Linked DNA regions of Homo sapiens. The protein of the gene in region 1 purifies or fractionates together with the protein of each later gene. This does not show direct contact. Each region holds a gene or a part of one and is shown in the gene's direction. Other genes may lie near its edges. The genes, in order: TCEAL7, DDX46 and ESF1.

What was found.
Region 2: the proteins of TCEAL7 (region 1) and DDX46 purify together in Homo sapiens (affinity purification with mass spectrometry; one large-scale study listed by BioGRID and IntAct). This does not show direct contact.
Region 3: the proteins of TCEAL7 (region 1) and ESF1 purify together in Homo sapiens (affinity purification with mass spectrometry; one large-scale study listed by BioGRID and IntAct). This does not show direct contact.

The regions. Positions count from the first base shown.
Region 1 is NC_000023.11:103,328,637-103,332,392, forward strand, and holds TCEAL7 (transcription elongation factor A protein-like 7), read left to right. Parts: upstream 1-1,602; 5' UTR 1,603-1,668; intron 1,669-2,286; 5' UTR 2,287-2,404; intron 2,405-2,740; 5' UTR 2,741-2,767; coding exon 2,768-3,070; 3' UTR 3,071-3,690; downstream 3,691-3,756. UniProt on the Homo sapiens protein: Plays a role in the negative regulation of NF-kappa-B signaling at the basal level by modulating transcriptional activity of NF-kappa-B on its target gene promoters.
Region 2 is NC_000005.10:134,786,215-134,789,870, forward strand, and holds part of DDX46 (probable ATP-dependent RNA helicase DDX46), read left to right. Parts: intron 1-2,298; coding exon 2,299-2,377; intron 2,378-3,001; coding exon of another isoform or gene 3,002-3,054; exon of another isoform or gene 3,055-3,400; intron 3,401-3,656. UniProt on the Homo sapiens protein: Component of the 17S U2 SnRNP complex of the spliceosome, a large ribonucleoprotein complex that removes introns from transcribed pre-mRNAs.
Region 3 is NC_000020.11:13,716,290-13,718,992, reverse strand, and holds part of ESF1 (ESF1 homolog), read left to right. Parts: intron 1-8; coding exon 9-85; intron 86-1,478; coding exon 1,479-1,625; intron 1,626-2,703. UniProt on the Homo sapiens protein: May constitute a novel regulatory system for basal transcription. Negatively regulates ABT1.

The DNA.
Region 1 (3,756 bases):
TTTATAGATGAAGCACAGAGAAGTTGCAGTATCCAAGTTTTACATTCAAGTTTATACAAAAGCTAAGTAAGTACAATTAATTCAAACTAGGATTTGTCCAATGCCATTCTTCTTACTAATATGCAAAGTCTTCAACACCCGAATCCTTCAGCCATTTTATAACTCTGAGTCTAACCATCTGCATGAAAAGCTGTTCACAGAGGATTCAGGAATTTTTCTCCCCACAAACGAATTTTTTGCCTCTATCACAACTAGTCATTCCTTAATAACTGTGACAATGATGCTCTACTGTTTTTAAGACTTTTTTCTGACCACTGAACTTTTTTCTGGAGTCATTTATATCAAACTGATTAGTGGTAACTTTATATTCATAATGAGCTGCAATCTTCCTAAAAACAACTTATGAGAAGTTTACACATCTCCCTTTCTATTGCATATATTTCAAGCTAACAAATCAAGAGCAAATCTACTTAGACAAGTACCCAAATCCTTAGCAACAAAAAGTTTAGTGTGTTGGGTGGCTAAATGTGACTAATTTTTGTTAGTACTACAAGTAGCTTTCAATACATCAGTATGGCTAAATAAGGTCATGGAAAACATAAATAGGATGGAGATGTCTAGGGAAAATGAAAAACTATTCTTTTCTGAATGAGAGTGTTGAAAAAAGTTGGGATATTAGGGGTACAGTATTGAAGAAAAAAGGGTTATGTGTATGGTATAAACTGGAAGAAAGAGGGCATGATACTGAGCTCAAACTAGTTAAAATTTGTGACTTACAGTTGCGATCTGGAAATCTAAGGGCAAGGTGCTGTAGGATTATGGTCTCAGTGACTCACCTAATGGAAGGACCTCACATGCCCGGGAGCCCCTCAAAAGAGTAGGTTCCAACTGACCTGTACATCTTAAACTTCAAAAAATATGTCTGCCTAAAGGGTCTATATTTATATTATGACTTCAGCAGCAGAAACAGGTGGCTGGCCTTTTTATCCTCCTATCTGGAATCTTTTTCCAAATGTACATATCTTTATCATATTTCTGATTATTAAAAGTATATAATAAGTTTATGGAAAAATTGGAAAAGAATAAGAAATTATCAAAACAAAAGTAAGAAGCACAATCCAAATCATTACCTCCTTTCCTAATTCACCCCATTCCCTCCAATCTGGTTTCAAGGATTGGACTCCAAGGGAAATGATGGCTATTAGTGGCTGAGAGGCGATTGGATGGAGGAGACTGCCACTTTTCTTTTCTTGTAGCTTAGAAAAGGATAAGTAATCCTCCCTCTCAGCACAACCACAAAAAAAGTAACAATGGTTAATATAACTTTGGGAAAATGCAGCCCCTCCCTGGTAATCAGAGAAAGGCAAATTCTGACCACAGGGAGAAGGCGCCACTTTTGACCTCTGGAATTAGCAAAGACAAAAATGAGTGACAGGGCCTGGTGTGGTGTGGGGTGGGAGGTTGGTAAGCCGGTCCACTTCTGCAGCGCTGCTGGTGGGAGGGGAAAGTGGGGACCAGAGATGGGGGATGACATAATCCTCACGTGATCAGGAGCTGACGTGAACCGAAGTCCTTATATTCCCGGGCTTCTTTCTCCTCTGGGTACCAGCTCCTTACTGCCCTGCAGACAAGCGTGCCGTGCGTGCTTGTGGCCAAGGGAAGGAAGAGGTAAATTCCTTAAATCCCAGCAGGTTGGAGTGAAGGAACCACTGGACCCCCGGGGTCAGTAGTGGGTGAATCTAATGACTGGAATAGGTCCAGACTTGCTTTCCCAAAACCGCTGCAAAATCGTCGGAGATAATTGTATCTTTTGCAGGGGGAAGCAAGGGGGTAGGTCGAAATCTTTTGAGAGACACCTAGAGATTTAGTGACAGCTTTGAAATAATCGGCTTCTCTCACCCTGGCATGCTTTCTTTTTATCCTTCTCCTCATCTTTCTCCAATTTTGTTAAGAGAAAATTTTAGGCCTGGGGTATGTGTTGGTGTGTGGAGAAAGGCTGAAATCCCGGGATGGAGACAACAGAAATTTAGAGATCATTTGAAAATAGTTCACCTCACTCAATGCCGGCCTGTGGTGGTGGGGTGGGGCGCGGGACGGGGCGAAGGAGGGAGACGCGGGCCTTGCAAGGCCCAGGCCTGAGGGTGAGGAGTGGGGAGTGGAAACGGAAATCCTGAAGGAAAGGATACAGACAGGAAGGAGGGGCCAGGAGGTAGAAATCCGGGGGGCGATGACGGTGATGATGAGAATCCCAGGTTCAAAATAATAACGTCTGTCTTGTCTCTGGAGCTGGTTGATCCACAGATAGCTCCTTCCTCCCCGCCCCTTCCTTTTTGTTTGGAGGTCCCAGGATCTGTGTTCACAGACATCTGGGGGAAGAAAAGGAGCAGGAAACTACCCCGCACAGGTCAGTATGAGAGAGGCACTTAGACTGAGATCTCTGAGGATAGGAGTCGGGAAGGGGCAAAAGCTAGGCGAAATTTGCGGCTTCGCAGTCCATCTCCTTTTCTGCTCCGCCTCTCCTGCCTATTGGAGAGGCCATTAGCTTTGTCTGCTGGGGAAACGGTGGGTTCCTGAGGTGGGAGGGGAGAAAAGGGGGAGATGAGAGGGTGGAGGGAACTGCCGCAGACTTATGAGGTCTGGACCTGTGGGGCAGAGATGGGAAAGTATCTTGCCTCAGAGAGAAACTGACAATCGTGATTCAAAAGTAATGAAGCAATTTGTCTTTACATTTTCTCCCTAGAGTTAAGCAGGAAACAACAACAACATCATGCAAAAACCCTGCAAAGAAAACGAAGGAAAGCCAAAGTGCAGCGTGCCAAAGAGGGAGGAAAAACGCCCGTATGGAGAATTTGAACGCCAGCAAACAGAAGGGAATTTTAGACAGAGGCTGCTTCAGTCTCTCGAAGAATTTAAAGAGGACATAGACTATAGGCATTTTAAAGATGAAGAAATGACAAGGGAGGGAGATGAGATGGAAAGGTGTTTGGAAGAGATAAGGGGTCTGAGAAAGAAATTTAGGGCTCTGCATTCTAACCATAGGCATTCTCGGGACCGTCCTTATCCCATTTAATTAATTTCTCTGACAATTCAATTATTTTCTGTTATTAATGTTGCCACTGCTTTCTGTTTGTCTGCACTTTCTTGATAAATATTTGCTATCGTTTTACTCCAGTCATTCGATGTTGCTGAGATTTACATATGACTCTTGTCAACATCTCATCTTTTGACCCAATCTTATTCATTTAATAAGAGGTCTCATTCATTTGCATGGAAAAATGCTCATTGTATATTGCAAAGTGAAAATAACGAGTTGCAAAACAGTGTATACATATATGTGTGTATATATGTACACTTTATTTGTACATTTCTATGTGACATAATGCAAAGGAAAGTGTCTGATTTTATTATACACCAAAGGTTAACAGTGAATCTCTGTGTGATCTCTTTTTTTTTCTTTTTGCCTATCTGCATCTTCTCACTTGCCAAAAAATGAATATATGTTTATGTGTGTATATTACTTGTGTCACAAAAAACCCTAAAGTAGACAGTAAAAGAACTTGTCAATCGCCTTTGGAAGGCAATGAAACACTTAATAAACTCTCAATAACAGAAGCGTAAAAATGAAATGTAAACCTCCAATTACCTCTGGATCTCTTAGCCAGAGTAATAAACTGGTAATTATTACAGATACACACGTTTAAGACTCAGTCTTTTCATAGGGAAAATATTTGCCTCACAGGGCTGCTGTGGGAAGGA
Region 2 (3,656 bases), on another chromosome or scaffold:
TGTGTTCATCATTTCAGAGTGTATATGTATATCAAACATGTTGTACACCTTAAATATATATAATTTTTGTTAATTATGACCCAATATAGTTGTGGCAAAAAAGAACATACTATGTTAATGCTAGATTAGAATTTTTGAATCTTTTTACATAGATTATCCCTCCTCCCTCTTCCCCTGCCTGAGAAAGCAGATTTTTTTTTTCATTTTACATATGAGGAAATATTCAGAAAGATTTATTAAGTTGACCAATTAGGTTAATACGTTCTAGAGTTTGTCCTGGAACCTAGGTCTCTGATCTCTGAGCATTTGTTTCTCTAATCTATGCTGACATCTTTAAAAAGTGATGGTGGCCAGGCACGGTGGCTCATGCCTGTAATCCCAGCGCTTTGAGAGGCCGAAGCGGGTGGATCATGAGGTCAGGAGCTCAAGACCAGCCTAGCCAACATGGCGAGACTCCCCGTCTCTACTGAAAACACAGAAATTAGCCTGGCTTGGTGGCGCCTGCCTGTAATATCAGCTACTCGGTAGGCTGAGGCAGGAGAATCACTTGAACCTGGGAGGCGGAGGTTGCAGTAAGCTGAGATCACGCCACTGCACTCCAGCCTGGGAGACAGAGCAAGACTCCATCTTGGGGGGTGGCGGAAGTGATGGTGATTACTGGGATGCATTAATATCAGAGGTGTTTTGTTGTTGTTGTTGTTGTTGTTTTTTGGTTTTGTTTTATTGGAGACAGCATCTTACTCTGTTGCCCGGGCTGGAGTGCAGTGGTGTGACCTTGGCTCACTGCATCCTTGACCTCCTGGGCTTAAGCCGTCCTCCCTCTTGAGCCTCCTGAGTATCTGGGACCACAGACGCATGCTACCACACCCGGCTAGTTTTTGTATTTTTTTGTAGAGACGAGGTTTTGCCATGTTGCCCAGGCTGGTCTTGAATTCCTGGGCTCAAGCAATCTGCTTGCCTTGGCTTCCCTTTGTAACACCTCCGAAAGGTATAGACGTGAGCCACTGTGACCAGCCCTTCAGCTGTCTTCTAAAGAATGAAATAGTTTTCAGATATTTTGCTTAACTAGAAGAAGGCAAAAAAGTAGGTTCTGTGATTGGATAAGTTTTGGAAATGTTGGAGTATAAAAAGTTAAAACCACTTTCTTTCCTGTAAGACTTCTTTGTTCTTAATAAGCTAATGTATATTGTGTTGCTAGATAAATGGGATAAATTAAGTGACGTTTTCTGAACTTAACTACAAAACTGTTTCTTAGGACTATTGTTACAAGAACACACTTCAAGAATATTTGCTTTTGTTAACTCCAGTGCTATTTTAATTACTTCAAATTACTTCATTTTCTAAGTTTATCTTTATGATTTTTCATGACTGTAGTTTGTAGAAATACACTTACAAAATAACATGGTACATGCCTGCACGTTGTATTTATATAAATGCCAAACAAAAGTTTTATGATGTTAAGGGACTTCTGGTATTTTCCATTCCATTTCATTTAAAAAATGCTGGTTGTGGTTGAACACTATGGCTCATACCTGTAATCATCACAGCATTTTGGGAGGCTGAAATGGAAGAATCACTTGAGTCCAGGAGTTTGTGACCAGCCTGGGCAATGTAGTGAGACCCCATCTCTTAAAACAGTAAATAAATTAGCGAGTGCCTGTAGTCCTAGATACTGGGAGGGTGTGTGGGGTGGTGGGGGGAGGGGCTGAGATGGGAGGGTCACTTGAGCCCAGGATCTAGGCTGCAATGACCTATGATGACACTGCTGCACTGGGCAACAGAGCCTGGGCAACAGAGTGAGACCCTGTCTCAAAAAAAAAAAAAAAAAAAGCTGATTATGACTGTTAAAGTGATTTCATGATTCACTAATGTGGCAACCCTCAATTTGAAAAACACTAGTCTATGTGGTCACTTAGAAATTTCTTTTTCTGAGGCAGGGTCTTGCTCTTGCTCAGGCTGGAGTGCAAGGATGTGATCATAGCTCACTCCAACCTTGAACTCCTGGGCTCAAGAGATTATCACTTTTTTTTTTTAAACTGCTTTCTTAAGTTCATTTCTTGGTTTTGAGGGATAGTGGCAAATCAAATTTGCAGAATTCTCTAGTTCTTATTTGTTTCAAATTTATGGCACTATGTGGTCACGTTGTTGCTATTTCTTTAGTAGTGCCCCGAGATTCAAAATAATTAAGCAGGAAGCTTGGAAGTCTTCTAATTAGACTAGGCAAGAACTAAATGCAGTATTTTTTAGTGTTTAAGTAAGCATTAGTAATAGACTATAAAGTTTCATCTTTTTTATTAGATTGCTGAGCTGAAAAGAGGTGCTGAAATTATTGTTTGCACACCTGGTCGAATGATTGACATGTTAGCCGCTAACAGTGGTAAGTCAGGGGTATTTTTTTGGTGTCTTTTATTTTTGAATTCTTTACTTTTTTTTGTTAAAACAGATGCAAGAAACCAACAAAGGGTTTCTATATTTCTTCTTAAAGCTGCAGTATCTTAAAATTTGTAGCCTGTAGTCCCAGCTACTTGGGAGGCTGAGGCAGGAGAATAGCTTGAACCCGGGAGGCGGAGCTTGCAGTGAGCCAAGATCGCACCACTGTACTCCAGCCTGGGTGACAGAGTAAGACTCCGTCTCAAAAAAAAAAAATAATAATTGTAACAAGTTGATTATTACAAGCATTAATGATATTTTTGCAATTTAAAATTTTTTTTCAGAAGTAACTCCATCTGATCATAACTTGGATTCTTAATCCAGTTTTGGCCTGGCTTTGCTTAGTAAAAGAGTGGGGTAGTAGCTTTTTCTTTATTACAAAATTTAGACTTTTTCTCCACATGAGCTAGTATTTTCTTAGATACTACATAAATTAAGATATTGCAGCTTCAAGAAATTTTATCTTTTGTAAATATTGCATGTTTGTAGCTCAAATGTTATGCTTTGTTAAATTATTCCCTATCAAAACTCTTACTAAACTGTTGACATTATTTAACTTCTGTGGAGAAAGGCCCTTCAAGATTTATAGAACTGGGCTTCCGAGACTTAAACCATCAAAGGTAGGTAATTTAATGCTGTTCCCGACCTTGCAAAACTAATTGGGGCTACAAATGCTAGTGTGGAATACTTAAATATTAGATAGCACTTATTTTGGCACTTTTTATTTTTTGAAGAAAATGCTCTCAGAGGTTTCCATTGCAATATTTAGTGTGTACATAATAGAGTATTAAAAACTGAGTTAGTGCATGTTTCTAGTAGTATTCTGCTTGAATTTCTAATTCTAATTGTACATGAAGTTGGCAAAGTGACATCGAAATTGAGAAGTCATTGTGCTTGTCTAGCATATGGAAAGTTTTGGTTTGAATGCTGATTAAATAATCCCTTTTTTTTTTTCTCAATGCTGCATTGATTAAGTCTCCTCCTGAAATTCATCTTGATTAATTTTACCTTTTTCTCTTATCTGTCATTGTGGTCTATTTTTAAATAACTATTTTATACGTGTTTTTGCCAGGTGATTGATTCAACAGTTGATAGCAATGCTTCTGTTAATATTTTAGAAGGAATTTCCTATGTATGTATTTTGTTTTCACTGGTTAGGAAGCCAGTTGCATTTATTTAAGTCAGTGGGTTCACTTAATAAAATTGGGATTTATATCTTTGTATGG
Region 3 (2,703 bases), on another chromosome or scaffold:
TGTGCCAGGTATAAATAAAAAATCGGTAAAATCTGCAAAAGATGGCACATCTCCAGAAGAAGAAATTGAAATAGAAAGACAAAAGGTAAAATACGATTATTGTTACATGCTTAGTGGATAATTCATAGGTACAATTTAAATGAAGTTGTACATGTCACTAATTTTAAAAAACAACTTATTTTAGCAGTGGCATTTATAACTAAATTGTAAGAGACATAATTAAATATTTTAGCAGTGTAGTTTCTAAATACAGTGTTTTTTTTACCAAACATAATTTCTCCAAATTGTACAAAGTTAAAATTAACCTCAAATTCAAGGGTATTTATTTTCTTTTATAAATTAAGAGGGAATTATCTCACTTTTAAAAACACTTACTATACCTGAGGCAGAAAATACCCTTAAAACCTCAAAATAATATTGCCATAAGTTTTAATTCAATCTGAATCTGTCCTGGAATACAGTTTGTGGTTATGGTTTGTCAAATGCAAATTTCTGTTTTTCTTATTGTGAATATGTATATTTAACGTACAAAATTACATTCTTGGAAATGCAGTGAACCTTATGCTTCAGTGACCCCCTATGTCCAGAGTCACACGTAATTTTGGCACAGAGTCATATGTGATTTTGCTGAGGCAGGAATTGAAGGCAGCAGTGCCCCTAGGGCTGATGTTCATGTCACTGTCCAGAAGTGTGCCTGACTGGCCACATAAAGTTATCTAAAGAGCAACAAAGAAAATCAATTTTTATGGAAAATGTCTCTGAAAAGCCAGCTAAAAGTGCCAGTGACAAAAGGAAATTAAGGCAGTCTAAAGTGGTAATATAGGAAGATCCACAAAGGTCGAGAGCATACTCTGTATTTTTACTAGTGTACATGGTTATTTACTTGATTCTTGAGGGTTCTCGTTTAATCCCATGGCTGGTAGAAAATACCCGTTTAGTGTAAAAAGACATTTACTAGATTTCAGAAGCAGATCCTAAGGTCCTACCTTCATAGAAATGTATCAGTATTGAAACAGTAAAGGCCAAAAAAAAAAAAGCAAAAAAAAAACTTACTTGTTAAAAGTTACACATTTAGAAAGTATAATTTGCATCACAAAATAAACATTTGCTAGATTTAGCATCATTGCGCAAAAAGAACAAAGTGAAAATGAGAACTTTTTATTTGAGGGTAGTTGGGGACTCTTGTTCCTGCAGCCTACTAATGAGTCACACTAAGTGAAATGGGGCCTGGTTTTTAACTACAAGGTTTTACCTCTCCTGCTCTCAGTAATGTTGCTTCCAGAGATTCTACCTTATTGCTATACAAAGATCTCTTTGTTTTGGTAATCCACAGTCAGTTTACAGACAACAGGTGGTACCCCAGAGTTCTAGTGATTGAGTCTTCCTTTCTAGAAGAGATATCTTCTGCCCTATACTCCTTTTTGGGGGTGGAAAAAAAAGCACTGTTGTACATTTGAACTTTTTTTTGCTCTCTACAGGCTGAAATGGCTTTGCTTATGATGGATGAGGACGAGGACAGTAAGAAACACTTCAATTACAACAAGATTGTGGAGCACCAGAATCTGAGCAAAAAGAAGAAAAAGCAGCTCATGAAAAAGAAGGAATTAATAGAGGATGACTTTGAGGTAACCATAGACACCAGGCATAGCCTCTTAAAGCTGGAATTGAATCTAAAGTCAGCTCTGCAGATAGAAATTGAGCATAGTCAAAGTTACCCTTGAAAATGTCTTAGGGGCCCGGTGCAGTGGCTCACGCCTATAATCCCAACACTTTTTTGGAGGCCGAGGCATGAGGATCACTTGAGTCCAGGAGTTGGAGACCAGCCTGGGCAACATAGTGGGACCCTCATCTCTATGAAAAATAAAAAAAATTAGCTGGCTGGGCGTGGTGGCTCATGCCTGTAATCTCAGCACTTTGGGAGGCTGATGTGGGCAGATCACGAGGTCAGGAGGTCAAGACCATCCTGGCTAACACGGTGAAACCCCATCTCTACTAAAAATACAAAAAATTAGCCAGGCGTGGTGGCGGGCACCTGTAGTCACAGCTACTCAGGAGGCTGAGGCAGGAGAATGGCGTGAACCCAGGAGGCGGAGCTTGCAGTGAGCCGAGATCTCGCCACTGCACTCCAGCCCAGGTGACAGAGCAAGACTCTGTCTAAAAAAAAAAAAAAAAAAAAAAAAAAAAAAAATCCAGGTATAGTGGCGCACACCTGTAGTCCCAGCTACTCAGGAGGCTGAGGTGGGAGGATCGCTTGAGTCCAGGAGGTCAAGCCTGCAGTGAGCCATGATTGTGGCACTGCACTCCAGCCTGGGCAACAGAACAAGACCCTGTCTCAAAAAAAAAAAAAAAAGAAAAAAAAAGAAAATGTCTTCAGAAAGACTGATGGTGGAGCCAAAGGCTACTGTCTTTTAATCCAGCACAGCCAGTTCATCCTAGGGTGGATGAAATCATTGTTTCTTTGGTTGAGCACCAGGTGAAATAGTTGACTTGTATTTTGGTAGCCATATTGTACCAAAAATGTGTAGTTTTTAATGTTAGAATCACATGTAGTGATCCTCAGACCAGCAAAGGTATGCTTGAATAGCAGGTTCATGTCACAGTGGGTCACACTCACTGTGTGCAGTGGCCAGCGCAGTAAGCCATGTTTTTTCAGTTGCTGTGTTTTTTGTTTCCATTACTCCTTCCTCTTTTTGTTGAGTACAT